Linked DNA regions of Homo sapiens: all the other regions are linked to region 1. The links come from fine-mapping of genetic effects on gene expression. A gene starts in region 1. Each other region holds a variant in brackets. All regions are shown on one strand. Distances are from middle to middle.

What was found. PIP is the estimated chance that this variant, and not a neighbour inherited with it, causes the effect.
Region 2: its variant is fine-mapped to the expression of IL15 in blood mononuclear cells (TOPMed, PIP 0.97).
Region 3: its variant is fine-mapped to the expression of IL15 in whole blood (TOPMed, PIP 0.99).
Region 4: its variant is fine-mapped to the expression of IL15 in whole blood (TOPMed, PIP 0.95).
Region 5: its variant is fine-mapped to the expression of IL15 in whole blood (TOPMed, PIP 0.93).
Region 6: its variant is fine-mapped to the expression of IL15 in fibroblasts (GTEx, PIP 0.91).

What each region holds. Positions count from the first base shown.
Region 1 is chr4:141,633,910-141,639,133 of GRCh38, forward strand. IL15 (interleukin 15) reads left to right here and starts at 2,674. Exons shown (of 8, transcript NM_000585.5): 1 at 2,674-2,839. RefSeq lists an enhancer at 2,587-2,676.
Region 2 is chr4:141,306,862-141,311,505 of GRCh38, forward strand. No RefSeq gene overlaps it. Among named protein-coding and RNA genes, the nearest start is that of LINC02432, 23 kb to the right of the region's middle. The variant C/T (reference allele first, on the strand shown) is at 1,731.
Region 3 is chr4:141,325,437-141,330,660 of GRCh38, forward strand. The region is part of intron 1 of LINC02432 (long intergenic non-protein coding RNA 2432); the gene reads right to left. Among named protein-coding and RNA genes, the nearest start is that of LINC02432, 4.6 kb to the right of the region's middle. The variant T/C (reference allele first, on the strand shown) is at 2,258.
Region 4 is chr4:141,703,319-141,708,542 of GRCh38, forward strand. All of the region lies in intron 2 of IL15 (interleukin 15), which reads left to right. Among named protein-coding and RNA genes, the nearest start is that of IL15, 69 kb to the left of the region's middle. RefSeq lists an enhancer at 4,225-4,725. The variant G/A (reference allele first, on the strand shown) is at 2,806.
Region 5 is chr4:141,360,181-141,365,404 of GRCh38, forward strand. No RefSeq gene overlaps it. Among named protein-coding and RNA genes, the nearest start is that of LINC02432, 30 kb to the left of the region's middle. The variant G/T (reference allele first, on the strand shown) is at 2,676.
Region 6 is chr4:141,408,277-141,413,500 of GRCh38, forward strand. No RefSeq gene overlaps it. Among named protein-coding and RNA genes, the nearest start is that of LINC02432, 78 kb to the left of the region's middle. The variant G/T (reference allele first, on the strand shown) is at 2,779.

The sequences.
Region 1 (5,224 bases):
GTTTTCCAAAGAGCAGGGGATCAACTTGTTCTTGATGGGAGGTTTAAATCTTAGTAAAACCATAAATAAGGCCACAGTCATGGACTTTGAACACTAAATCAGATGAAATAACTTGTAACTTCTTCCATGTAATCACAAAAGCTAGAAAATAAATTATTAGTAATTTATTTTAAAGATGATTGCCCAATTGACATTGTTTTTGAAAAAAGATATTAAAAATTTATTAAACTATAATTTTATTGTTAATTATTTGAATTCAGGAAGATTATTATGGTCACTTCTATGAGATTTAGTTAATCTCCACTTCTTTCTACCCTGTAATTTTATTAGTTATCTTAAGACAGTTTCAAATTATTTCATCAATCTTCATCTTTGCTTTTAATTTATGCAGCAGAATTTACTTGTTCATTGGTATGAGTAATTTTCAATATTTTGCCAAACAGCCTGTGGCAACTGAAAACACAAGTTGCATACATTAGACTTTTCTTTTTGAGTGCAATGCAACAAAAACAAATTATGTTGCAAACCCAACTTCATTGAACTGCAGGCACTCATAACTAATTAAAAATACTTTTAAAACATCTGTATTTATGAAAACAAATTTGACCAACATATTTGGGAGGCAAATAGTAGAGCAAAGCATATCTTATGACTATAATAATTTTTAGTTGTACTTTACTGTTATTTATGTTTTTTATCTCCCTACTCTGACAAAATGCTTTATATATCATTTAGTCCATCTTGTTCTAGAACCTACTATAGTTGAAACCCAATAAACAGTTGTAGACCAATTTTCTTACTGTTATATACTCAGATTATGCCTTAAGTTCACCCTACAAGTAAACTTTCCGTCAATTTCATAGTGTTGTGAAAACTCTCTAGTAGCTCAGAACGTTCTTGGTGGTCTCAATATATTAAAAGTATGCAGTCAGATACTGATGGCCCTGAGTCCTGCAGACAGCTAACAAAGCTGAAGCCCACAGGCTAGTGAGCACCAGCTGAGAGCACTTTCTATAGAGTTTGTGGGCAGTCCAAGAGAGACAGGATCTGAGATGTGATGATATGTCCTCTGGCAGCAGCAATATCTGATATTGAGCTCTGCTAGGTGGTGCTGAGCGTGGACACCTGCTTCCTTCACCGGCTGCAGAGAACACAGTATCCATTAAAGGAGCTGAAAGAGGTGCTAGAGGAGTTTACATGGCAGGAGTCCAGGAAGCTCTGCAACAGTCCAAAATGAGGTTGGGACACATGATACACTTGTTCATCCCTATTCTCTATCTTCACACATATGCATATCAGTCCTTCCGTGGCTGCTATATTCTTGTGGTGAGATCCAAACCAGCTGCAGTCTTGCTCTCCCAGTGCATGCTCATTCTGCAAATCAGAGCTTCAATGTATTGCTATGAAAAATTCTGACTGGTCTTGAAATCCATTGACACCATCACAAGAAAATTCAACATGACATCGTCATGAACAGAAATGGATGATGGCTTCATATTCTTAAATATAATTTCCAACTATGGTGAAATTTTGAATGGTTGTAAAAACTGTTTTTGCATTTTTATACCTCACTTATTTTGTTAATGGAGACTATCTAGAGTTTGATGTAATTCTCATCAAAAAGTCCATCAGTAATTATTTCAAATATAAAACTGATATCAAAAAATTGAGTTAATGAAAATAAACTCAAATTTTTCATAAAAATATGAAATTATATTATACGGAACTTTATGTACATGGAAAGTGAATAATTTCTATTATTTTTCTATTTGATATTTATCATATTTATGTAATTAAAAACATAATTAAATTTTAAACTAAATTAAACTGCGCTCCAGGAAGACATCATTTTCTCTGAACCATGACTCTGAAAATTTGGAAAGCACCGTACAAGAGGGATTTTCAGTGATTCACAAGAGTGCAAGATTCTGCAAAGTACTTTCAAAACTAAGCGTGAGATCTTTGCTACTGCCTTTATGGCATGCAAATCACTCAGCCTCAACTCAGTTCCTTCCTCCAATGTAAAAATACTACAAGAACAACATCTCACGCTTCCATCAAATGGGACCATGTGTGATATTTTACACTGGACTACACAATAGGCTGGAAAAGTGATCCGCAGAGAGGCTCATTGCTCTAAGTTCACTCCCTGTACCAACTGTCTTGCACAAAGCTGCCACCCGGGTGTCTTCTTCCAACATTTCCCCTAGTTGGACTTCAAAGTTTCCTTCTTGCAGCCTGTGCGGGGACCAAGAGGCCGGTCTAGAGTAGCCGCCCAGCATCCAGATCCGACATCCTTTTCCCTTTCCTCAGGAAGACTTGGATGCGCGCCAGCCCAGCCCGGGTCTCCAGGTTCAGCTGCGGAAGCTTCCCACATGGTGCCCGTCGCTTGGGATGCGGCTATCCTTGTGCCTTCTCTGCAGGTGTCCCGGCAGGTAGAGGAGGAGACCGGTGGCTGGTGTTCCTGCAGGGCGGGGCTGGGGCTCCTCGATGTCCTTGCGCTTGCCCTGCAAGTTCTGCGCCCCAGGCCCCGGCAGGGACGGAAACAGGCCGGGAAGCAGTGACACCTGGGGCAGTCAGTCATCCAGGAGCCGCCGCCACCCGCCCCACCCCCAGTCTCCGCGGGAGGTGTTTGTCTTCGCCTATGCTCCCGGCTCTTTCTCTTTCACTTTTCTTTTCGCCAGGGGTTGGGACTCCGGGTGGCAGGCGCCCGGGGGAATCCCAGCTGACTCGCTCACTGCCTTCGAAGTCCGGCGCCCCCCGGGAGGGAACTGGGTGGCCGCACCCTCCCGGCTGCGGTGGCTGTCGCCCCCCACCCTGCAGCCAGGACTCGATGGAGGTACAGAGCTCGGCTTCTTTGCCTTGGGAGGGGAGTGGTGGTGGTTGAAAGGGCGATGGAATTTTCCCCGAAAGCCTACGCCCAGGGCCCCTCCCAGCTCCAGCGTTACCCTCCGGTCTATCCTACTGGCCGAGCTGCCCCGCCTTCTCATGGGGAAAACTTAGCCGCAACTTCAATTTTTGGTTTTTCCTTTAATGACACTTCTGAGGCTCTCCTAGCCATCCTCCCGCTTCCGGAGGAGCGCAGATCGCAGGTCCCTTTGCCCCTGGCGTGCGACTCCCTACTGCGCTGCGCTCTTACGGCGTTCCAGGCTGCTGGCTAGCGCAAGGCGGGCCGGGCACCCCGCGCTCCGCTGGGAGGGTGAGGGACGCGCGTCTGGCGGCCCCAGCCAAGCTGCGGGTTTCTGAGAAGACGCTGTCCCGCAGCCCTGAGGGCTGAGTTCTGCACCCAGTCAAGCTCAGGAAGGCCAAGAAAAGGTACCGCAGCTCCCCACTTCCTAACTGCTCCCGTCCCAAACTCATTGTGGGCCGGTGCAGATGTCTGTGCGTGCGCGTCTATCCCTACCTTTGCAAAATCAAATTATCGCCCTCTTCTTTGCTTGCACACGTCTTCTGGGAGAGAAATTTGCAGGAATGGTCAGTGCTTGGCAGTCAGGCCTGGGTCTGTATTGGTTCCAACTCTGCGCCAGCCAGTTATCTCTTAGAGAAGCGATAGTGTATCTAGAATGTCGAAGGAACTTGGAAAAAATACGAGCGAATTTCACTGAAATAAAATCATTATTCAAGGTGGCTTTTAAATGAAAATCCAGCCAATTTTTTCAAGTGTTATTAAGACCGCATGTAGCAAGGGTATATAGTTCATTTGACTTTATGTAATTCCATGCATTAAAAACTATGTTGACTTCAAAGTATGTCTAAACCAAACTAATTCTTAAATGATGCTTACAACAGATTCTTAAATAGGATGAGTCAGCAATTTCAAAACTGGAAGTAAAGTGGTGGTCACCAGCTAGTTTCCATTATATATTTTTAAACTACTATCTAATATTATGATACTGGTGGTGGCCAACTAAGTGGACGTCATCCTTATCTTGTCAGTGTGGTGAAAGAGGCCATATTAGCTAGGCTGAATTTTTGCTCAGGTATTACAGAATAAACTGGTGATTATGCATCCTGCCATGTAGAGGTTATAAGGTGAACCATTCTACTGAAAGCATCAAGATACAATACACTTTTGGAAGGCCGAGGCGAGAGGATAGCTTGAGACCAGGAGTTCCAGTTTATAGTGAGCTATATGATCTGCCACTGCACTCCAGCCTGTCAAAAAATAAATAAATGAATAAAAAAGATATAATACAGGTTAAATTTTTAAACTCCTGTTGTTTTCGTGTGAAGTAATGTGGCCAACAGAGCAAGGAAATACATGGGAAGGAACATAAAGACATATAAAGAGAAGAACTGAAAATACAGCAAAAGCCATTTAGATTTAAAAAGTGAAGAAAAAGCTAGTTTTGCTTAAAGTTAACAAGTATCATAGAGATCTTAAGGTTTGTTATGATTGTCTTAGTTTCGGGTCCTTATTCGTGTAAAATTCTCACAGAATTTTAGTCAATCAGAAAAGTCTCTCCTGCAGTATCATCTGCTTTGCAACAGTGACAGAGAAGGGTCAGTTGACCATTGGTCTGGAACTTCTGATAGGCAGGGTGTTCCCATACTTTTGGTTTCACTGTTCCTTGCTGATTTGGAGTGGCAACTCCAGAACCTGATTGGAAGCTATAGTTCTGGTTGGAATTTTCCTGCAGACTACTGGTGATTAAAATGATGCTCTTTTGTTTTAATCCATGAAATTAATGTAGCCAATGTCAACAGCTATATTGCAAGGCACAATGTTTATAAATTTCCTTGGGGGATGGAGAAAACAGTGGTTTAAGGTTTATCGAAATAGATTTTGGAAGTGGAAGGTTTTAAAGCCTACGGGATACTCCATCTCAGATTTGCTGCCTCTGATGAATTTCAGGACAGCTAGAAGAGCAGCCCTGAAATGCTGGGTACATGTGGATTTTTCTCAGGAAAATATCCGTAACTTTGATCAGCTTTTTAAATGGGTCTCTGACCCAAAAGAGTTTTAAATCTTTTGAAAATATAGACTACTGTCCTTTTCCCCTCATCTCTCCTGGAGTTTAATGTTGAGTTCTGCTCATTGTGTTAACTATTTTTCTGAAGGTTAGCTGATCATAATACAGAGTTCTGTCTTCAGACCTATAACTTAAGTTATGAGAAACAGTATGAATAATAACTAACATTGTTGAGTTCTTATTATGTATCAGACATTGTTCTAAGGATGTATTTTTTAAAAACATCGTAATAAACTTATGTGGTAGGCAAT
Region 2 (4,644 bases), 330 kb before region 1:
AAGCATCTTTATGTAAATTACTTCATTGTCTTTGTGTCTATTTTTTTCATGAAATATTCCCAAATAAATAATTATTGAACTAAAATGTAATAAAGGATATTTTTAAAATGGTAACCAGCTGCCAGACTGTTTCTCAGAAAGCTTGAACTGATATTCCATACCATGGATAATATTTTATCATAGCAATACAAAGTTTAAGCACTTAAATTTTTTTTTTTTTTGGCCAGTTTGATAGATGTAACTTACTCTATTATTTAAATCTTTTCATCTTCTCTGCGGTTAAAATAGAATGCTTGTAAAATTGGGACATGAATTTAGGGCAGAATCAGAGTGACAGCTTTCCGACAGATGACCTCTCCCTCATCAGTGTTATTTTCCAGTTTCTTTGGCTCATTTTGCAGTGAACAACCTAACAGGGTGAAAGTTCCAGATACTCTGACAAGGTGATGGTTTTGAAGAGAAGTTCTGCTGCTGGGCAGAAGAGGGCACTGTTTGTTTGTACTGAGGCAGAACAAACCCTGACCTGTTTAGAGAGAGCAATCACTGTCAGAGCCAGCTCTTCACTTCACACTTGTGGTCCTGTGACCACTGTGGTGGCGACCGCAGCTCCTTCCATGCATGACAAGTCCTGTTAAGCATTGAATTTGTTATTATGCACTGAGGTCTGTGAAGTTCCTGCCTCCTAGAAGACCAATGGAATCATTTACACTGCTGTCACCGAGGAGTTAGCACCCAGGCAGTTGCCTACCACAAGAAGGAGGGCTGGTTTGCTCCAGGAGACACCAGCCGGTCCGGACACCTGCAAGACTCTGGGGAACCACAAGGTTAATTAGAATTTGATGAGCAGTGAAGGTCAGGAATTTAGAAAGGCTGGAATAGCAACCAGACTAGGATTGTAAGAACATTTTTGTTAAAATTAAGAAGTAATACCCAAGATTTTTAGGCCAACCACATTTCTGTATTTCTTGTTTTTTTTGTTGTTGTTTATTTTTTCTAGTTAAAAAAAGTCACATAGGAAATGTACAAATGCATTATTATTACAAAAGATTAAATCACACTATGAAGTGCTGAGCAATCTGTATTCTCTCTTTGGCCTCTTCATTCCACTCACACTCCCTTTCTCAAAGGCCACTGCTGTTAATAGTTTGATGACTTTGTTGTGGGCCTTTACAGACACAGGTGCATACACTGTACACATATATCTTTTTTTCTCTCCAAGAGTGGGATCTTGCCATACATATTATCCTGAAACTAGTTTTTTCCCCCACTTAACCATAAATCGTGTCACTGTTTCCATGAGTTCAAATTGGTCTTCTTTTGCATAACTATCTGTAATATGGATTATCATGAATTAATTAACCATTATACTGATGAAACATTAAGGTTTTCAATTTTCACTATTACAAATAATGCAAAGTGAATGTTCTTGTGTTTGTAACTCTGTGCACAGACTTCAGTGTTTCTGTAGGATGGATGCCAGATGTAAAATTGCAAGGTCAAATTTTATGAGCACTTAAAGTTTTAATAGATGTGGTCAAATTGCCCTCCAAAAAGGGAGAAGGTAACTTCTATTTATTTATTTTTACTATACTTTAAGTTCTAGAGTACATGTGCCAACGTGCAGGTTTGTTACATATGTATACATGCGCCATGTTGGTGTGCTGCACCCATTAACTCGTCATTTACATTAGGTATATCTCCTAATGCTATCCCTGCCCCCTCCCCCAACC[C/T]CACGACAGGCCCTGGTGTGTGATGTTCCCCACCCTGTGTCCAAGTGGGGAGAAGGTAACTTCTTAAAGTTATTGATATGTGCAGTCACGAGAGTGTTTGATGGTGCTAAACAGAAGAAACTCTTATGTTGTAGGCCAGAACCTTCAGTGGGCTGATTATATTTGTACAGTTGCCTTTGCTTCACTCCAGTGAAACCATTATGGACTCTTTCCTAAATGAGAATCTTGGGGTTAGTATAAAGACCTTCTAAACTGCAATGGGCCTCTGTCATATTTTTCTCAGGTTTGGGCAGAGGGTTAGGATAAAGGAAGGAGCAAAGTGTCTTCTTGACCTGCAGAAGAGGTTCGGGGGAAATGCCTTACACATCAGCAGGGGCCATGAGAGCAGGTCTTATCTGTGATGCCTCATATCTGATTCTGCTCTTGTCTGCCTACTGTCCACACTATTCTTCGAATCATAATTAGATCACATCGCATTCTGCAGAAAGCCTTCTAGTGGGCACCCCTGCAGGTACCTTGGCTTATTAGGCCCCTTTACACTCTGACCTCTTCCCCTGAGACATCATATCCAACTAGGCTGCCTTGTTCTTCCTGCCCCAACCCTCACCTCTCAGCCCACTGGCTTCATTTTGGCTCTAAACACACCAACTGAGAAAGTGAAGGGACTTCAAGTAGATGTCCCGGAGGGCTCTGAAATGTGCCCTCTACTTTGGGAAGCCTGATAAATCTAACAGAATGCACTGAATCTGATTGGGGCCAGGAACTGGGAAGAACAATGAAAGGGCTAAGTGTTCCTGAGGTAGAGCCCTGAGAGCATGGTCTAAGGGCTGCGCCAGTGTTTCCCTGGACCAGATGTGTGCCGGGGGAAGAGATTTTACCTGGGGACCAACAGGGAGGAAAATAGGCCACAGAAAAAAGAGGCCAGTAGGGACTGCTAGTATGGACATGCAAAGTAGCCAGGAAAGGAGTTGCAACCAAGGAAACTGCAGGTGAAGGAAGTCCCAACAAGGAAATCTCTGAAGAGACCTTGAAAGAGCCTCATGTAGGAAAGGGATAGCTTAACATCTGTCTACTCAGCCACGACTTCAGCTTTAACCATCTGGTAGGCCCCCAAAGCCCAAAGAAACTTCCCAGCCAAGTAACTTTGCTAACTCTTTCTCTTTATGCACACCTCTTTATCTCCCAGCCCAGCCTTCACAAAGCAGAATACTGATTCTGTATTGTGGGAGCAGATGAGCAGAGAGAGCAGACAGCAGGAGGACTGGGCTCACTGGCCACCCCTCCACCACCCGAGCCATGTGAGCTGGAGAGGACATTAAAAGCAAAAATAAATAGAGAAATCTAGAGGCTGGGTTTCTCCAAGAGACTGGACTGTCAAACTTCCTCATTGAGACTGTGCTTTACACAGGTGAGCAGAAGGTTGCATCCTCTGAGAGTTGCTGGGAAGTTAGGGACTTGCCCAAGCCTTGGTTCAGTTGCAGAGTACTCCCACTCCATCGTGTGCGAAGCACACTTCTCAATCTTGGCTGTGTATTAATGTCACCTGGGAAACTTTCAAAAATCCCAATGCCTGGGCTATGCTACAGTCCAAATAAATCACAACCATTGAGGGTAGGGTCTAGGCATTAACATCTTTAAAGAGCCCACATAAATTCAAGGTGCAATCAAATGGTGAGAGATAAAAATAAGGTTGCCTTTAATCATAACTAAGAGATTGTTCCCTATACTAAAAATATATTTGTTTTTATATTAATTCCAGGGCCTTTATAATTCCTGAACTTTTTAATGTACAAATTACAGATTTAAAGGTAAATTATAAACTTTAAAAATATTTAGGTCATCTGTTACTTAATGCTATAAAGAATACTTTTTGAAAAGGTGACAAGGGCTTATCTACACACAAGAATCTAAACTATGTCCTACATCGAGTTGTGAGAAGGCTAGCTAGACCCCAAATTGCAAAAGTAGAATATGCATTAAGACTTTATCATTATGCTATAATATGATGAGACATACTCTAATTTACCAATATATATCAGGTTGATAATGATTTTAATATCAATGGATGTATTAGTTAAGGTTCTCTAGAGAAATAAAACTAATTATCTATATCTGTATTGACATAGATATTTATTATATAAATTGCTTATGATATTACAGGGGCCAAGAAGTTCACAATCTGTTGTCTGTAAGCCAGAGAACTAGGAAAGCTGGTGGTATAATTCAGTCTGAGACTAAAGGCCTGAGAGCCAGAAGTGCCAATGTCTGAGGGCAGAAGAAGCTGAATGTCCCAGCTCAAAGAGAGAGAGCACATTTTTATTCAGACCCCCAAGAGATTGAATGATGCTCACCTGCATTGGTGAGGGAATCTATGCAGTCTACTGATTCACATGCTAATCTCTTCTAGAAACATTCTCACGGACAAACCTGGAAATAATATCTTACCAGCCACCTGGACATCCCTCAGCCCAGGCAAGTTGATACATAAATTAACCATCACACTGAGCTTCAGTAGCATCACAGAGAGTTTTAATTGGATTTAGCTCTCTTCCTCCATTACCAGAAAGAAGTACCTTGGAGAAAATGGCAGTTTGGCAGAAGTAGCAAGAACCGCACTTGTGATGTATTTTTTTTTTTCATACAAACTTTCTCTCTAATGGTACTTATTAATTTCCAAAAGCCAAATATTTGTGGTCTGACTGCATCAGAATCACTTTGGGGACCTGTTAAAAATACTGATTCCCTAGTCCAATCCCAGAACTCTGGTGCCAGCCTTTCTGGCAGTGAAGCCTGAGGAGTGATGCTCCCACGTGGCTCTGATGGCCAGCCGCCTTAGGGCAGCACTGGCAAATGCTGGCTGATGATGAAACCTTAGACTAAGAAGAAATCTGGTGGTGGGGAGAGTACATTCTTA
Region 3 (5,224 bases), 310 kb before region 1:
ATTTTTCACTCCTCTGAAGTAATAACTGTTAACAGTTTGTGCATACTTACAAACATTTTTTCATGTGCATATTTATAAAATATAAAGTTCTATATATTATTTTGCAACTCATTTTTATCATTTAGTAATACAAGTTGTGATAATGTAAAATATATGTCTAATTTATGCCTTTTAATTGTCACATTTGTTGCTTTCAACTTAAAAGATTTTTAACCCATACCTCATTAGTGATCGTTTCTGCAGTTTCCAATTATTTTCTTATTGCAAACAGTGCTACAATAAAATATTACGTTGAGCAGAAATGCTACTATAAGTATCCCCATAGCATTGTTTGCAATAAGAAAAAAATTGTTACAACTCTTGTTGGAGAAGGTAAGTGTATCTTTAATATAAACTCACAGGGTAATTTCATATATCAGGTTTTTTTCCTATAATATGATAGTTTAAGACAAACGTTTACTATTATTCATAGGATGACATATTGGTTTAGTGATTCTTTTAGTCTTGGCTAGATTGATTCACATGTCTGCTGTAAGTAAGCTGTGGGTTGGCTAGGTGTTGCTGCTGATCTTAGCTGGGTTCTCCCATACATTTGGGGGTTGACTAACTGTTGGCTGGCCTAGAAAGCCTCAGGATTTCTCCTAGAAGCCCATCCTGGGCATGTTTTCATGGTGAGACTGAGGGCCACGGAAAGGAGGTGGAACATGTAAATGTTTCTTCAAGTCTCTTGTGTCTTTTGCTACTATTCCATTGGCCCCAGCAAACTTGAATCCAAGGTATGTGTGGTAGGGCATTTAGCGTCAGTGTGAAAAACTAGAATAATTTTTGCAATCAATTTTCGTATATATTTTAACAGTTTATGGATATTGCCAAATTGTCCTCTCACAGGATTTAACAAATTTTCACTACTACCAATGTTGTATGAGAGGATTTTTGGCAACAAAATTTAGTCTCCCAGAGTGAAAAATTACGAACACAGGACAATCTTGTTCCTTCTGATTTTTACTATTATGTTCTAAAACTACTGACCAAATTTATAATACTTATTGCTTTTTCTATTGTACAGCTTTTCTTAATAATTTATAACATTTGCATTCTTTTTGATAAATTTAAAGCCATATTAATAGTTCTTTTTTTTGCCTTAGCCATAATTAGAAGGGAATTAATGTTTACTTTATTAGTTTTTTCAGAAAGCAGCTTCCACATTCTTAAGCTCTGTACTGTGAACCACATCTTAGTTGGGTAAATTTTGTTATCAGGAAGGTTTTCAAAACATGGTCATGCATGTTATATTTTCTGAGATCATTCACATCTAACAATCTTTTCCTATTGCTTTTATACATGAATGGGCTGAGGATAAAATTATTGGGTCCCATATTTCCCCTTATTTATCCATTATCTTCTGGAATTGAATGTTCTATGAAGAGCTTTGATATAGGTAATCTACCTGTCCTTCCATTCATTTCAAAACGTTAATTAAGCATCTAACATGACAGGCACTATTCTAGGCACTGAGAGTATAGAAATAAACCACACACACACATACACACACATACAAACACACACTCACATACACACACACAAATATCCTTGCTTTCCTGAAGCTTAAGTTCTTGTGAGAGGACATCACTAATAAAAAGAAAAAGTAAATAATTATCTATGTAGTATGAATAAATAGATTAAGTAAATGAAAGTAAAACAAACAAAAAATTGAATGGCTTAAACAACATAAATTAATTTTTTCACTATTCTGGAAATGAGAAGTTCAAAATTAAGGTGTTGGCAGAGCTGTCTCCCCTCTAAAGACGCTAGGGAAGAATCCTTTCTTTCCTCTTCCTAGCAAGAAAGTGGTTGCGGCAGCGTCACTCCAGTCTCTGTCTCAGTTGTCACACTGTTTTCTTTTCTATGTCTCTGTGTGTCCTCTCCTCTTATAAGGTCCTTAATAGGTTGACTCTAATCCAGAGTAAACTTATATTTAACTAACTGCATACACAAAGACTCTTATTTCCAAATAAGATCCCATTCTGAGGTTTAGGGTGCACATGAATTTTTGAAGGACACTGTTGAACCTAGTACAGGAGCAAATACTGCCCTTAGTATTACAGAGTGAAACCTTCAACAATAGGAAGCACACGAGTGTTGGTATTTGAGCAGGGTACCAGTGAAGGAAGATTACAAATCATGATTTGTCCTATCTGCACAGTCAGCTACCCAGTATAACCCGAGGCTTGATTCTGGAGTGTCTCCACAGGTGGAA[T/C]AAAATTAGGGGCCAATGAGAAGAGGAGTAAGAGGACCACTCTAAGAGAGGAAGACAAAACCCTTCAAATTCATGAGTCCACTTGTTTCCTAGAGTATAAAGATGAAACATCAAATTGTGACCCAGCAAAAGACCTACAGAGTGGGAACTGCTCTGTAGCACATATACAAGGAAACTGATGTGATTGGATATTGATTGCAATAATGCCTTTGCAAATCCTCTGGTTCTACAGCCCCAGGTCAACTGTATTTGTCTTCTTTCTATCAGAGGAAACCAAGCCCTCAGCTCTCACATGGGCCTGACATGGAGGAGATAGATCAATGAAGTGGGAGAAAAGCAGCAATGGTGAGGTGGGAGACGACACCAGCACTTGATATTCTATCTCCAGAAAAGTGGATATTCAAGATTTGTACCTTAGGCACCATCTGCTCATCCTGATTTCTTTTAATCACCAATGCCAATGTAGAAAGAGAGATGTAACTCTACACCTCTTTGCTTGAGCTTAGGGTCATTTTCACAACTCCAGAGTTCTGAGAAAACTCTACCTAATGGGGAAAAAGTGTTTATGTTTTTACTCAGTTGTTTCGTTACATAAGTTGATTATGTTTGAAAATAAAGTGTATTGTTTGCTAGTTAAGAGTGATAATTCTTATTCACTTGCATTTCAGGAGCCTCCGAATGAGGAAATCATAACTCAGGCATTAAAAACTACTTTCTATATTTGAATTACTTTTTATCATTTGTCTGAGACTTGACCATAAAGATGCTATATACATCTAATAAAGCACAGAATTGCGCCCTCACACAAAGTGGGTTATTTCAGTGATTTGAGGCAGAGAAATCTGTTTCTGAACCCAAGTCACAGGTGGTGGGACTCCTTCATTGTTTGTACCTTGTAAGTAGAAAGCAAAGGGAAAAGTCAACCAAGCAATCTCAGTTGCCAAGGAGACACAGTATTTTCTATTGAATGAAGAAAAAATATGTGAACTCCCTACTTTTGTTGACTCACTACAAGTCGATACCAATGATCCTGAATAAATGGTTTGTCAAACAACAGGGCCTTGTTGTCGTTTGCATGGATGGGAACTTCACACAGTGTAAAAAATCAATACTTACCGATTAATTTCTTTGAGAGTGTGGCCTTGCTAGTATTGCCTTTTATATTACTAAGTAGATTTACTTTCTATATTTCCTCCTTCCTCATTGCTTAAGGGAACATTTGCAAGATTCATAGTAATGAGTCGATTCAGACTAGTACAATTCAAAATATGCAATTTGATTCATATTCTTCCAGGTTCTGAACAGCTACTAGTTTAGAAGCATGCTGAAAACTATGCTATAAATGAGCCTTTCCTATTTGATTGGCTTCACACAGTCTCCAAAGGCCGCTCTCCTTGCTATTCGTATATAAGAAGATAGACCTTTGGTTGTGTGGACAGCAGAAGTAAGCAAAAAGAACTCTTGCTCATTCTTGAGGTTCACAAGTTCTAATTATCACAAACAGAACATGAGCTGAGCCTGAGACAGCCTACAAAATCACTGTCTATTACTTCTTCAAATGTGGTGCAATATGAGGCCTCTGCTGAGGGAAATATAACCACACCCTGATTGTATTTTTATCTGCTCATCTCATCAAGCTTTGATTTAGCAACAGATGATTAGGCAACCGTTGTTGGAGGATATTGCAAGCTTATAAAACCCTGAGATTCTTGTTTAACGGAAGGGGATAAAAAAGACATCAGGAAGCATTACAAAAGTTTTCTTTAATGTTTATCTGGCCTGTAAAATAGTGAGTACAAGTAGGAGAATCAGTAAATAGTTATTTAATGACCGATGGCTCTGTGACTAGTATACTGTAGCAAGTCCATAGGAATGAATGCTCATGGAGAAAGGAGGTAAAAAGTGAAAGAGGGAAAATAATTTCAACAAAAGCAAGATCTGTGTTTTAGATGAATTAATATGAAAATTAATGTACATTTCCTTTAACAAAAACATTCATGTTCTTAAACGCTCAAGACTCCTAATTACTTTTATGAATATAAATGGCTAGACCTTTGTTACCCGATTGATTATTAGAATTGATTTCCCTGGATAGTCTGTTTCTTTTCTCATTGATTTAAATGCCCTTTGGAAGTTGAGCTCACAGATTAAAAAAAAAAAAATGTGTCCTTACCAGACGGAAAACAGTATTCTTGGATCCAGGGTCCTTAGCTCTTTGGATCATTTGGTCTCTTGAAACTCTTAAGGATGAAGGTAGGGACAATGCAGGAACATGGAAACTGAAAATTTTGGGTGTTGGGTTTGTCCAGTACTGCATCAACTTCATTTTACAGCTTTCTCTTTACCTTGTTTCATTTTCCCCCCCTCCATGGCTTTCCTAAAATTGTCAGTTTCCTGGAAGACCCAGACACCAGATCTGTATTGCCTAGCTCTTACTGAATGTTTCAAAGAAATGTTTGGCTACTAATCCACAGTATTATTAAACTGCAACCAAAAGCAAGCCTAGAGTCTCCTGGTTTAGGTTTTGAGACTACTGTGAATGTGTAAGCTCAAGACAGGTATGTCCCTGCTTGGAAGTAGACAGGAAAATCTTTGCACTGCTGAATTAAGCTACAAAATCAGCAGTAATTACACACCTGCTTGTTTTTCTCTTACCTCCTGAAATTTCAAAATGTATTGATATTTTAGTGAATATATTATAAAATAAAATACACTTAATGTATTTTACATTGTCTAAAATCTTACAAGGAATGGCTGAGACATGAGTGACAGAATTGTGCTGATGCTGTAGGACTGACACTGGAAGGACAAAAAGAACTAGCATTTGTCTAGCACTTCTCTATTCCAGGCTCCGTGCTAGATGCTTTAAATATAGTATTGGGTTTTACATTTAGAACAACTCTTTTAAGTGTTAACATTATTATGAGGTTGAACCTCATGAAATTGCCATTTTTGTAGGTCGAAAAT
Region 4 (5,224 bases), 69 kb after region 1:
ATTCAGCTGGGAGCTTCTTTTACCCTGTGACCCCTCCCTGAGCTCATTGGCTAACTTTCTTGAGGGCTCCTGTGAGATATAGTCAGGAATGGCTTTCCTTGGTTCATACTAGAGACTCAGAATACCTGCAAGGCACTTCCTGCGACTGCTTCTACTTTTATTTTCACGAGGCTCCCTAAATTTGTTCCAGCTCTTGGTAGCATTAAGGCCTTCTCCTGTGGCCTGGATTTTCAGATTCCTTAGTGGGGATATGTGCTCAAAGGTAGAATCTCCCCGTCTCATACTCTGGGAACTTTTATTTTTTTTCCTATCTCATGGAGTAGGCTGCAGCCTATCACTTCTTTCAAAAGGTCTGTGGATTTTTCCAGTTTTCCCAGTGGGAGAGGCATGCTAACACTGCCTCCTATCTGCTATCTTGAAAAAAAAAAAAAAAAAAGGTGTATAGATCATTCACTTCCTTGGTTAAGTTTATTTCTAGGTATTCGATTTTTTTAATTTTTTGTAGCCATTGTAAATAGGATCCCTTTTTGATTTCCATTTTAGCTAATTCATTATTGGTGTATAGAAATGCTGGTGATTTTTAAATGTTGTTTTTCTGTCCTGCAACTTTACTGAATTTGTTAATTTTAAAAGTTTTTTGATGAATTCTTTAGGGTTTTTAATATATAAAGTTTTATCATCTGCAAACTGGGACAATTTGACTTCCTCCTTTCCAATTTGGATGCCTTTTATTTATCTGGCCTAATTGTCCTGGGTAAGATTTCCAGTACTATGTTGAATAGAAGTCATGGATAGGCATCCTTGTCTTGTCTTTAATCTTAGAAGAAAAGCTTTCAGCAATTCCCCCTTCAGTATGATGTTAGCTGTTGTTTTGTCATATATGACCTACTGAGATACATTCCTTCTATGTCTAATTTTTTGAGAGTTCTTCACATGAAGGAATGTTGAAGTTTTTCAAATGCTTTTCTGCATATTATCATCTGGATTTTGTTTTTCTTCCTGTTAATGTGTTGTACCATATTTATTGATTAGCTTGTTATACCATGCTTACCATGCTTGCATCTCTGGGATGAATCCCACTTAATCATACTAAATGATTTTTTTAATATGCTGTTGGATTCAGTTTGCTACTGTCTTGTTAAGAATCTTGTGTCTATATTCCTCATCAATATTGACCTATAGTTTTATGTTTTTGTTGTATCCTTGTCTGGTTTTGGAATCGGATTAATGCAGGCATTATAAAATAAGTTTAAAAGTATTCTCCCATCTTCAATTTTCTTCAGTAGTTTGAGGAGAATTGGTGTTAGTACTTTATATATTTGGTGGAATTCAGCAGTGAAGCTTTCAGGTCCTGGTCTTTTCTTTGATGATGGAAGACTTATTAGTGATAATAATAAATAATAATTTATATTAATTGTTATTAATTTCTTTACTCATTATCAGTCTGTTCAGATTTTCTATTTCTTGGTGGATTTTCTATTTTAATTTTGATAGGTCATATGTGTCCAGAAATTTATTCATTTCTTCCATGTCATCAATTATTTTGGTGTATACTTATTCATAATAGTCTCTCATGATCCTTTGTATTTTTGTAGTATCAGTTGTTATGTCTCATTTTTCATCTCTTATTTTATTTATTTGAATCTCTCACTTGTTTTTTACCATAGGTAAAGGTTTGTTGATTTTTATCTTTTTAAAAAGCCAAATCTTTGTTTTGGTTTTTATATGAATTCATTTTTTTGTCTGTATTTTATTTGTTTATGTTTTGAATTGTATTATTTCTGTCCTTCCTTCTACCAATTTTGGGTTTAGTTTGTTCTTATTATTTTTAGTTCCTTGAGGTGAATCATTGGATTGTCTACTAGAAATCTTTCTTCTTTTTTGGTGTAGGCATTTACTATTTTAAACTTCCCTCTCAGAGTTTCTTTCACTATGTCGCATAGGTTTTGATATGATGTGTTTCCATTCTTGTTTGTCTGAGGGAAATTTTTTTTCACTTTTACTTCCCTCATTGACCCATTGGTTATTTAAGAAAAAGTTGTTTAATTTCTATGTATTTTTAAATTTTCTGAAGTTTTTATTTTAGTATTGATTTCTAGTTTTATTGCATTATGGTTAGGAAAGATACTTGATATGATCTCTATCTTCTTAAAAATTTTAAGACTTGTTTTGTGGCCTAACATGTGATCTATCCTAAAAAATGTTCCATATGCAGGTGAGAAGAATGTGTACTCTGTCGGATGCAGTGTTCTATAAATGTCTGTTAGGGCCATTTGGTCTATGGTATAATTTAAGTCCAATGTTTCTTTGTTGATTTTTTGTCTAGATGATCTGTTCATTGTTGAAAGTGGTATATTGAAGCCCTCTACTATTATTGTATTGCCCTCTGTTTCTCCTGTTAGGTCTAATAATATTTGCTTTAGATATCTGGGTGCTCTGGTGTTGGGTGCATAAATATTTATAATTGTTACATCCTCTTATTGAATTGATTTCTTTATTTTTATATAATGACCTTCTTTACCTCTTTTTACAGTTTTTGACTTGATGCCTATTTTATCTGATATAAGTATGGCTATTTCTGCTTGCTTTTTGTTTCTGTTTGCATGGAATATCTTCTTCTATCCCTCCACTTTCAGTCTGTGTTATGCTTGTTGGCAGCATATAGTTGGTTCCTTTTAAAAATTCATTCAGCCACTCTCTATCTTTTAACTGGAGAATTTAGTCCACTTATATTCAAGGTTATTATTGATAGATAATAACTTACTCCTAACATTAAAAAAATTACTTTCTGGTTATGGTTATTTC[G/A]TAAATGTTTTGTTCCTTTCTTCCTCTTTTATTGTTTATCTCTGTGGTTTGGTGGTTTTATGTGTTACTAAGCTTGGTTTCTTTTCTCCTTCTTGTTTGTATATGTGTTATATCTTTCTTTGTGGTTATTATAAGGATAAAGGGTACTGATGGTTTATTTAAATCTGATAGCAACTTAATTTTGTTCACATAAAAATACTCCAGATGTTTTCTCTTTTCTTTACTATTTATATATTTGTTTCCTTAATTTACTTCTTTACCCATTATGTAGCTGTTGTAATTTTTGACCGTTTTGATTTAAACCTTCATACTAGAGGATTAAAAGATTTGCATAACATTACAGCGCTAGGATATTCTGAGTTTGATTTATGAATTTACCTATACTGGTGAGCTTTATATTTTCACACGTTTTTATTATAGTAATAATGAGCCTTTCATTTCCAATTGTACCACTCCTTTAAGCATTTCTTGTAAGATCAGTTAAGTGGTGATGAATCCCGTCAGTGTTTGTTTGTCTGGGAATGTCTTCATTTCTCCTTCATTTTTGAAGGATAGCTTTGCTGAATATAGTGTTCTTGGCTGATTTTTTTTTTTTTAATTTTCAGCACTTTGAATATGTCATGCCATTCTCTCCTAGTCTGCTGAAAAATCTGATAGTCTAATAGAGATCCTTTTGTATGTGAGTTAATACATTTGTCTTGCAGCTTTTAGAATTCTTTGTCTTTGACTGCTGACAGTTTGATAATCATGTGCCTCAGAAAGGATCTTTTGGGGTTCAATTTAATTAGGGACTTTTCAGCTTCCTGAATCTAGATGTTTGTATCTCTGAATACTTGGGAAGCCTAAAGCTATTATTTCTTAAATACATTTCCTATGCCTTTAAAAAAATTTCTTCTTCCTCTGGCATTCCTATAATGTGAATATTTGTTTGCCTAATTGTATCCCATGTATTCTGTAGGCTTTCTTCATTCTCTTTTGTTCTTATTTCTGTGTTTTTCCTCTGACTGGGTTATTTCAAACGCCTGTTTTCTAGTTCAGAAATTCCTTCATGAAAGATCTAGTCTATTGTTAAAAATTTCACTTGTATTTTTTAAATTTTCATTTATCAAATTTTTCAGCTCCCAGATTTCTGTTTGGTTCTTTTAAAATTATATTTATATATTATGCATTTCTCATTCCAATTATTGATTGTTTGTCTGTGTTCTATTGTATCTCACTGAGCTTTTTAAAGATCATAATTTTTAATTATTTTTTAGGCATTTCATAAGTATCATTTTACTTGGGGTCTTCTACTAGGATTTATTGTGTTCCTTTGGGGGTATCATGTTTTCTTGCTTTTATTATATTTCCTTTGTCTCTGCATTGATACTTGTTCATATAGTAGAATAGTTTTTGTTTCCAATTTTATGGAGTAGCTTTTTCAGGGAGAGACATTTCCTGTAGATAAATCCTAGGGTATAAGTTCAGCATGGTGAATGGCTTTGATTCTGGGTGGACTCAGTAGCACGGTATCTGTGCAGTTTCTTTGGCTGTAATACTCATCAGTGGTGTCTGTGATTGACTCAGTGGTCTACGCTGTGAGAGCTTTTGAGGTAGTGGCATAGTTTTCTTGGGGTGGGAGCACTGGGTTGGTTTTCAGGTTGGGCATGTGGGGGCACAGAGAGCTGACAAGCTGTCTGGCTACCTCTCCAGAGAGTCAGTGGCTACTGCTGTGCTGGCTGTTGGGCCAGGCTTGAGCTTACAGAGATGCTGCCAGCAAGGTGGCTGTGTGGCTTTCTTTTCAGTGAGGCAGGGCAGCCACCAAACTAGATGAGCACAGCAATGCCAAGCATCCCTGTGGCAGTCTGTTGGAGAGGCAGAGCTGCTGCAGGACTGGATGTCGGGCTGCATGTGAATGTTTGTGGGTGCAGCAAGGCCATGCAGCTCTGCAGTGGCCTTTCATGGGAGTAGGTTGCCACATGACCACTTGCCAGGCTGGGTGCAGGCACATACATGCTCAGAGTGCTTGCTGGCTGTGAAGCACAGGTATGTGTTGGTAACATGGCTAGTGGCTGTTTGGAAGCTTCCCTGCTGTGCATATCTGCCTGTTCCCTGAGATAGTGGTGTGCCATGTGAGTTTGGACACTGGGGTCTTGGTCATTATGACATGCCTATGCTCTAGGTAGCTGAGTTTGTGGTGGTGCAAGCATTCATGTGAACATAGTGGAATGAGAGCAGGGCCTCAGGGATGGAGACAGTCAGTTGCTATTGGCTCCTACTAGTGGGTCTGGTTTTAAGAAGCCATTGAGCTCTATCATCTTAGGCCTTAAGGGTGGGAGGTGTTCAAGGTGGGCTCCTACTGTGAGGCAGTGCAGCTGTACAAACTTCTGGCTAATCTCCAAACTGGATTCAAAACCTATAAGGACCAGGAGACTCTCCT
Region 5 (5,224 bases), 270 kb before region 1:
TTTTGGTTGGTAGGCTATTAATTAAACTGCCTCAATTTCAGAGCTTGTTATTGGTTTATTCAGGGATTTGACTTCTTCCTGGTTTAGTCTTGGTAGGGTGTATGCGTCCAGGAATTTGTCCATTTCTTCTAGATTTTCTAGTTTATTTACATAGAGGCATTTATAGTATTCTCTGATGTAGTTTGTATTTTTGTGGGGTCAGTGGTGATATCCCCTATATCATTTTTTATTGTGTCTATGTTATTCTTGTCTGTCTTCTTTATTAGTCTTGGTAGTGGTCTATCTATTTTGTTAATCTTTTCAAAAAACCACCTCCTGAATTCAATGATTTTTTTGGAGGGTTTTTGTGTCTCCATCTCCTTCAATTCTTCTCTGATCTTAGTTATTTCTTATCTTCTGCTAGCTTTTGGATTAGTTTGCTCTTGTCTCTCTAGCTCTTTTAATTGTGATGTTAGGGTGTTGATTTGGGATCTCTCTAGCTTTCTGATGTAGGCATTTTAAATTTCATATGGAATCAAAGAAGACCTCATATAGCAAAGACACTCCTAAGCAAAAAGAACAAAGCTGGAGACATCACACTACCTGACTTCAAACTATACTACAAGGCTACAGTAACCAAAACAGCATGGTACTGGTACCAAAACAGACATATAGACCAATGGAGCAGAACAGAGACCTGAGAAATAACACCACACATCTACAACCATCTGATCTTTAACAAACCTGACAGAAACAAGCAATGGGGAAAGGATCTCCTATTCAGCAAATGATACTGGGAAAACTGGCTAGCCATATGCAGAAAACTGAAACTGGACCCCTTTCTTACACCTTATACAAAAGTTAACTCAAGATGGATTAAAGACTTAAATGTAAAATCCCAAACCATAAAAACCCTAGAAGAAAACCTAGGCAATACCATTTAGGACATAGGCATGAGAAAGACTTCATGACTAAAATGCCAAAAGCAATCGCAACAAAAGCCAAAATTGACAAATGTGATCTAATTAAACTAAAGACCTTCTGCACAGCAAAGGAAACTATCCTCAGAGTGAACAGGCAACCTACAGAATGAGGGAAAAATTTTCCAATCTACTCATCTGACAAAGGTCTAATATCCAGACTGTACAAGGAACTTAAACAAATTTACAAGAAAAAAATCAAACAACCCCATCAAAAAGTGGGCAAAGGATATGAAGAGACACTTCTCAAAAGAAGACATTTACATGGGCAACAAACATGAAAAAAGCAGCTCAACATCACTGATGATCAGAGAACTGTAAATCAAAACCACAATGAGAGCATCTCACGTCAGTCAGAATGGTGATTAATAAAAGCCAGGAAACAATAGATGATGGCGGGGCTGTGGAGAAATAGGAATGCTTTTACACTGTTGGTGGGAATGTAAATGAGTTCAACCATTGTGGAAGACAGTATGATGATTCTTCAAGGATCTAGAACCAGAAATACCATTTGGTGCAGCAATCCCATTACTGGGTATATACCCAAAGGAACACAAATCATTCTACTATAAAGACACATGCACACCTATGTTTATTGCAGCACTATTTACAATAGCAAAGACATGGAACCAACCCAAATGCCCATCAATGATAGAGTGGATAAAGAAAATGTGGTACATATACACCATGAAATACTATGCAGCCATAAAAAGGAGTGGGTTCATGTCCTTTGCAGGGACATGGATGAAGCTGGAAACCATCATCCTCAGCAAACTAACACAGGAACAGAAAACCAAACACCACGTATTCTCACTCATAAGTGGGAGTTGAACATTGAGAACCTATACACACAGAGAGGGGAACAACACACACCAGGGCCTATTCAGGGGTGGGGGTTGAGGGGAGGGAACTTAGTGGAGAGGTCAATAAGTGCAGCAAAACACCATGGCACACGTATACCTATGTAACAAACCTGCACGTTCTGCACATGTATCCGATATTTTTTTCTTTTAGAAGAAATAAAGAAAAAAAGAGGCAACTATTGCCTGGTTGGCTATCATTCTATGATGTTAGTAGCCATTTATCTTCATTGCCTAATCCAGGAATTGGCAAACTAAAGCAAATCCAAATCCTGTTTTGTAAATAAAGTTCTATCGCAAAACAACTATGCTCATATATGTATTGTGTATGGCTGCTTTGCTCCAACAACAAAATTGTATAGTTGCAATAGTGACCATGTGCACTGCAAAGCCTACAGTATTTATTGTCTGCTTTTTTAAAATTATACTTTAAGTTCTAGGGTACATGTGCACAACGTGCAGGTTTGTTACATATGTATACATGTGCCATGTTGGTGTGCTGCACCCATTAACTCGTCATTTACATTAGGTATATCTCCTAATGCTATCCCTCCCACCTCCCGCCACCCCACGACAGGCCCCGATGTGTGATGTTCCCCTTCCTGTGTCCATGTGTTCTCATTATTCAATTCCCACTGATGAGTGAGAACATGCAGTGTTTAGTTTTCTGTCCTTGCGATAGTTTGCTCAGAATGATGGTTTCCAGCTTCATCTATATCCTTACAAAGGACATGAAATCATTCTTTTTATGGCTGCATGGTATTCCATGGTGTATATGTGCCACATTTTCTTAATCCAGTCTATCATTGATGGACATTTTGGTTGGTTCCAAGTCTTTGCTATTGTGAATAGTGCC[G/T]CAATCAACATACGTGTGCATATGTCTTTATAGCAGCATGATTTATAATCCTTTGGGTATATACCCAGTAATGGGATGGCTGGGTCAAATGGTATTTCTAATTCTAGATCCTTGAGGAATCGTCACACTGTCTTCCGCAATGGTTGAACTAGGTTACAGTCCCACCAACAGTGTAAAAGTGTTCCTATTTCTCCACATCCTCTCCAGCACCTGTAGTTTCCTGACTTTTTAATGATCACCATTCTAACTGGTGTGAGATGGTATCTCATTGTGGTTTTGATTTGCATTTTTCTGATGGCCTGTGATGATGAGCATTTTTTCATGTGTCTGTTGGCTGCATAAATGTCTCCTTTTGAGAAGTGCCTGTTCATATCCTTCGCCCACTTTTTGATGTGGTTGTTTGTTTTTTTCTTGTAAATTTGTTTGAGTTCATTGTAGATTCTGGATATTAGCCATTTGTCAGATGAGTAGATTGCGAAAATTTTCTCCCATTCTGTAGGTTGCCTGTTCACTCTGATGGTAGTTTCTTTTGCAGTGCAGAAGCTCTTTAGTTTAATTAGATCCCATTTGTCAATTTTGGCTTTTGTTGCCATTGCTTTTGGTGTTTTAGACATGAAGTCCTTGCCCATGCCTATGTCCTGAATGGTATTGCCTAGGTTTTCTTCTAGGGTTTTTGTGGTTTTGGGTCTAAATTTAAGTCCTTAATCCATCTTGAATTAATTTTTGTATAAGGTGTAAGGAAGGGAACCAGTTTCAGCTTTCTACATATGGCTAGCCAGTTTTCCCAGCATCATGTATTAAACAGGGAATCCTTTCCCCATTTCTTGTTTTTGTCAGGTTTGTCACAGATTAGTTGGTTGTAGATGTGTGGTATTACTTCTGAGAGCTCTGTTGTTCTGTTCTATTGGTCTATATCTCTGTTTTGGTACCAGTACCATGCTGTTTTCTTTACTGTAGCCTTGTAGTATAGTTTGAAGTCAGGTAGTGTGATGCCTCCAGCTTTGTTCTTTTGGCTTAGGATTCACTTGACAGTGAGGGCTCTTTTTGGTTCCATATGAACTTTAAAGGAGTTTTTTCCAGTTCTGTGCAGAAAGTCATTGGTAGCTTGATGGGGATGGCATTGAATCTATAAATTACCTTGGACAGTATGGCCATTTTCATGATATTGATTCTTCCTATCCATGAGCATGGAATGTTCTTCCATTTGTTTGTGTCCTCTTTTATTTCGTTGAGCAGTAGTTTGTAGTTCTCCTTGAAGAGGTCCTTCACATCCCTTGTAAGTTGGATTCCTAGGTATTTTATTCTCTTTGAAGCAATTGTGAATGGGAATTCACTCATGATTTGGCTCTCTGCTTGTCTGTTATTGGTGTATAAGAATGCTTGTGATTTTTGCACATTGATTTTGTATCCTGAGACTTTGCTGAAGTTGCTTATCAGCTTAAGGAGATTTTGGGTTGAGACAATGGGGTTTTCTAAATATACAATTATGTCATCTGCAAACAGGGACAATTTGACTTCCTCTTTTCCTAATTGAATACCCTTTCTCCTGCCTGATTGCCCTGGCCAGAACTTCCAACACTATTTTGAATAGGAGTGGTGAGAGAGGGTATCCCTGTCTTGTGCCAGTTTTCAAAGGGAATGCTTCCAGTTTTTGCCCATTCAGTATTATGTTGGCTGTGGGTTTGTTATAAATAGCTCTTATTATTTTGAGATATGTCCCATCAATACCTAATTTATTGAGAGTTTTTAGCATGAAGGGCTGTCTAATTTTGTCAAAGGCCTTTTCTGCATCTATTGAGATAATCGTGTGGTTTTTTTCTTTGGTTTTGTTTATATGCTGGATTACGTTTATTGATTTGTGTATGTTGAGCCAGCCTTGCATCCCAGGGATGAAGCCCACTTGATCATGGTGGATTAGCTTTTTGTTGTGCTGCTGGATTCAGTTTGCCAGTATTTTATTGAGGATTTTTGCATCGGTATACATCAGGGATATTGGTCTAAAATTCTCATTTTTGTTGTGTCTCTGCCAGGCTTCGGTATCAGGATGACGCTGGCCTCATCAAATGAGTTAGTGAGGATTCTCTCTTTTTCTGTTGATTGGAATAGTTTCAGAAGGAATGGTACCAGCTCCTCCTTGTACCTCTGATAGAATTCGGCTGTGAATCTATCTGGTCCTGGACTTTTTTTGGTTGGTAGGCTATTAATTATTGCCTCAATTTCAGAGCCTGTTATTGGTCTATTCAGGGATTCAACTTCTTCCTGGGTTAGTCATGGAGGGTGTATGTGTCCAGGAATTTATCCATTTCTTCTAGATTTTCTAGATTATTTGCATAGAGGTGTTTATAGTATTCTCTAGTGGTAGTTTGCATTTCTGTGGGATCAGTGGTGATATCCCCTTTATCATTTTTTATTGCATCTATTTGATTCTTCTCTCTTTTCTTCTTTATTAGTCTTGCTAGTGGTCTATAAATTTTGTTGATCCTTCCAAAAAACCAGCTCCTGGATTCACTGATTTTTTGAAGGGGTTTTTGTGTCTCTATCTCCTTCAG
Region 6 (5,224 bases), 230 kb before region 1:
TAAGTGGATATGTAAATTTAAATTAATTACAATTAAATACAATTAAAAAGTTACTTTTTAAAATGCGCTAGCTACATTTCAAGGGCTCAACAGCCATATTTCACTAGTGGCTATCATATGGGACAGGGTGATAACAGGGCATTTCTCTCATTGCAGACATTTCTATTGGAAAGTGTTGCTGATTAAGCCACTGTAGGCAAAAGTCACTGAAATGTAGATAATAATAAAATGTCTTTTTTCATTATTTGTGTGCTTTTCTAAAGGTGTTTAGAAAAACCCTATCATATATGATTTTGTTACACATGTTTGTGAGAAAGAAGTCAGTGTGATGATTAACTTTATATATCAACTTGACTGGGCTAGGGAGTACCTAGATGTTTGGCCAGACATTATCCTGGATGTGTCTGTGAGGGGTTTCTAGATGAGATTAAAATGTAAAGCAGTAGACTGTGTAAAGCAGATTGCCCTCCCTAATGTGGCAGGCTCTCGTCCCATCCACTGCGGACCTGAATAGGAGAAAAAGGCTGAGTAAGAGGGAAATCCTTCTGCCTGACTGATTGAGTTAGGACATTGGTCTTTTCTGGTCTTCAGACGGGACTGAAACATTAACTCTTCTTGACTTTAAAACTTACTAGCTTTGGGACTGGAACTTACACCATTGGCTCTCCTGGATCTCCACCCAGCCGACTGCAGATCTTGGGACTTCTTAGCCTCCATAATCACATAAGCCAACTCCTTGTAATAAATCTCTCTCTCTCTCTCTCTCTCTCCCTTTTTATCTCTCTCCCTCTTTCTCTCTCTCTCCCTCTTTCTCTCTCCCTCCCTCCCCCCGTGTGTGTGTGTGTGTGTATAAGTGTGTGTGTGCGTGTGTGTACACACACATCTATATCCACTATATCTGTATCCAAAAACACACATTCTATTGGTTCTGTTTTTCTAGAGAACCCTAATACACCAAGAAAGGAAGGGAAATAAAGTTTTTGGTAAATAATTGAAAGGCGAAGTTAGTCCCTTGGATTTTCTTTCTTTTGTGTCTTAACAAGTTCCAGCCAGAAAACAATCCAATAAAAGAGACATGTGCTCATCTGTGAGGCAAGCAAAGGTGAAAGGGGCAAAAAAACAAAAACAAAACAAAACAAAATAAAACAAAACACTGGAAACAGCCAGATAGAGTAAATATGTAGGGAGAAAGATATGAGAATCAGACAACAAATGGCAAGTTTGACAAAATCTGGATTCTCAATAGCAAAATAAAATTATGAGACTGAAGATTATTATTCAGGTTGAAGCTTAGGTATTTAAAAATATGACTGATTATTCTTCAGATGTCCACCTGGGTGGCTTAGGATTTTAGGAATCCCATTACACTGCTTAGAATAAAAATGGATGTACCTGGGCCTTTGTAAGCCATGGTTTCTGTACTCTTAGGCCTGAGCAACAGCTCAACGATGGAAGATACTGCGATTTAGTAGCATACAAAAGACCGCTGAATCATCACCATGTGCAAACAAATACGCAAACACCCATTCTTTTTCATGATTGAAGAAATAAACAAGGGTGGTATTAATTATCTGGCTAAAATAAATTATAATGAATGCAAACTCATTACTGTTGAAATCGATGCATGCATAGCAGAAGGTACATTTACTGAAGTCAACATACTTAATTACATTTGGAGTAATAAAGAGAGTAGGCATGAAGTCGAATGTCTCTTGAGCCTAAACATTAATTTTGATCTAATTTTCTTTTCCTCAATGTTGAAAAAATGAAAAAGCAAACAAAATTAAGAGACCAATGTTAACTTTATTAGCGTTGTTAACAGGGGATTTTAAGCTGTTTGTACCATGTGTTTTCCACATTGTGATCCAAGAAAGGTCACTTGATTTTAAAGCCAATAATGTTATTATAAGTATAAAGGTAGCCATATGGCATTTCTCATTCTACAAGAATACAGGTGACATATATAAAGCTTCAAGAGCCACAGTGACAAAACCAAGGGATACACAGAATTCTGACACTGTGGAATGAGAGTCTTTATGACACTTGAGTTTTTGTCCAAAAATTGTTTTCTTTCTTTAATCTGTTTCTCTTTCCAAACAATGTCGAGATTTTTAAAAATTTAATAATTCTTCAGTTTTACATATTTTCTGTTAGCATGGGGTTTTGTGATCTTGCTTAAACTTTCAGATGACTTTATGTTGTTTTCCCAAATAAAATGTTAAAACTCCTATTCAGACTTCTTCATAGCACCTAGCAGAGTGTTGGGCAAAAAGGTATATTGCTGGGTAAATAATTGTTAAATGAGTAAATGAAGAATGAAACCCCTGATATCTATGAAAACAGATAACCCTGGCTGACATGGTATTCTCTCAATTGAGGAGAAAACATCCTGGCCAGATAAATGGCCTGAAAATTATTCTCATTAGACTGCTTGGCTGTTAGAGATAGGTGTTCTGATTTAGAAGAGAGAGTTTTGATTTAAAAGAACCTGCCTACCACTTAGAGGATATAGGACTGTAGATCTCTTTGATTCTCTGTATCTGATCAGCATCTCCCATACAGCCTCATCCTTAGATACATAAATGTTTGTCTTCAGCAAGAAAGTAATTTCTGTTGCCTTTTCTTCAGAAGAAATATTCGACTTTTAAAAACTGTGTTGTTTATGCTAGATTTCTCATGAGTAATAATTGGAGTATGGAAAGTGGGATATTAGTAAGTATTTCAGTATGCCATCCAATTTTAACATTCCCAGTTGGTGAAATAGGAATTTTAAAAATC[G/T]AATGACGTAGTGAAATGCTGCAAAGTTGGCAATTTCCTGCGTTGTGTTCTAGCAAAGGCCTGAAGATATTTGAGTGGAGCCCTGGTAATATCTGTTCTGAGTGAACAACTGGAGACAATTTTTCTCCAACTCCCTAAAACATTTGGCAATGTCTATAGAAATTTCTGAAACCATATGTGAGTAAGTTGCCCACCTGATGCCCCATCAACCTCTAGGATTTTTAATAAACATTTCCTAAAAACAAGGACTTTATCCTACATAGCCACATGATAATCAAAATTACAATGTTAAAATCAATACATTACCACTCTAATTCTCAGTCCTCATTCAAGTTTTGACAATTGACCAGTACCATCCTTTATGTCAAAAGGGTTCAACAGCGTGTTGTAGTTGTCACGTCTTTTTAGTCTCCTTCAGTTTAAGACAGCTCCCTGTCTTAAATTCAGCTTTCTGGATTACATAACTTTGCCCAGTTAACTTTTTAGAATGACTCTCCATCTGGGTTTATTTAATGTTGCCTTTTGATTATATTTAAGTTGTGCATCTTTGGCAGAATTGTCACAGAAATGATGCTATGTGCACTTTCCTGGAATCTTTTCAGGTAGGGCACAATTTTGATTTGTCCCATCACTGATAATGTTTATTTTTATCACATGATATAAAGGTGATGTCTCCACAGTGAAGTTACTCACTGTAGCATATTTTCTGGGGAAGTACTTTAAAACTGTGAATAGCTCATTATCTGCCAAACTTTCAATTTATTCATTTAAATATATATGGACTTGTGGTATCTTATTTTCTTCAATAACTTATAATCCATTATTTATCATTATTTATTTTGATGATCAACTTTTCCCTGATTAGCCAGTGAGAGCCCAGTACAGCTGCCTTTTGTATTCTATTGATATGTTCTTATTCTTCTTTGGGCAACTCCTTGCTTTTTGACACAAGATATTCCAGGTCATCTTGTATGTTTCCCTGTCCCAGCCCTGGAATCAGGAATTTCTCCAAGAAGTCCTGGTTCCTTCTAGTGAAGAATAATATTTAGAATCCATGATCTGGAAGCCAGATGTGTTGATTACTATTGGGATGTTTCTGCTGCTCTCTGGCACTCTCATCTGAGGAATTAGGCAGTTAGGGAGTTAGAGAGTTAGGGAGTTAGGGAAATAGGGACTTGGGAAATTAGGGTGCTCTCTCTCCACAAATTCACACCAACGCCTCCAATTCCATTATTACATCACAGGGTTCATCAGAGTTTTCTCACTTTGCATATTCATAATACCATTCTCCAACATTAAGAAATGTGGCTCTCATTATCCCTAATCTATTTACCTTATAATCTATGTCTGTGTATGTAACCCACTTCCCCTCTCCACAAGGAAGATGCCCTCTCCCTGTGGAGACCTGCCTCCTCGTGCTGGCTGTCCATGCTGTAGGTGCCCTTTTCATCACAAGCAGAAGGCACCTTCAGCAGGACTTATTTTTCACCTGCCCCATCCAGGTCTCACCCACAGGTAGACACGCTCCTTGTATTGCTTGGGCCACCCCTTCATTTGGATTTCTCCCTCACCTAATTGGGCCGGGTGGTCCTGCATGGATGCCTTACCTATCCTGTTTTGATACTTCACATGAGGTTGCTCGCTTGCCAAGGGCCCTTGTCACCCTACACATTCTCTGAAGTTTTCAATTGAAAACTGAGATGATTATATATTGGGACTCAGTGCCATTTTTATGGCAGTCTTGCTCTTGCTCTTCTTCCAGCCTGGTGAACCCCTTTTCTAAATGTGACAGCAGGTAGTAATTGCAGAAGCCATTGCAGGCAGGACTATGCCAGCTCTATCCCACCGGGAACTTAGAACTCTTCGTGGGAATAGGCACCGTGTCTTCAGGTTGTCAATCTTAAATACTTCTCACAATAACATCTCTTGAGACACCAGAAAAGACACCAACCATAGACAGTTATAGAGCTTCTCTTCTTCTATGATAATCAAGATTTTGCAGCTAATAAAATTATTCACCACTTCCATTCACCCCTGCCCACTCTTTGCATGATCACCTTCCTAGAACTGAATGACTATCTTCTCAGCTGTTCATGCTTTGGGGTCTATGCTTTGGAATTTTTGCTGCAGATTTGAAAACTTCTCTCATTGTCACAGAATTCTAACCTCTGTACTCCAAACCAATATGCACAGAAATTTGTGCAAACCTTTTTAAGGTCTTGTCATACTCTAGCAATGAGCTTAGTTTTCCATGCGAATTTTCACCTTCACAGAATCTCTACTGATGCTCCATCTTGTAATCATAGGTTTTGGCTTGAGCTCTAGGTAGGCAGGCTGGCTGGTATGAGAGTCTTAGGACAGACTACTACCCTTTTGCCTCACGTTGCACCGTGCAGCTGTGCAGCTTAGCTGGGTGCAGGGCTGGCCTTGGCTTTTATGACAAAGG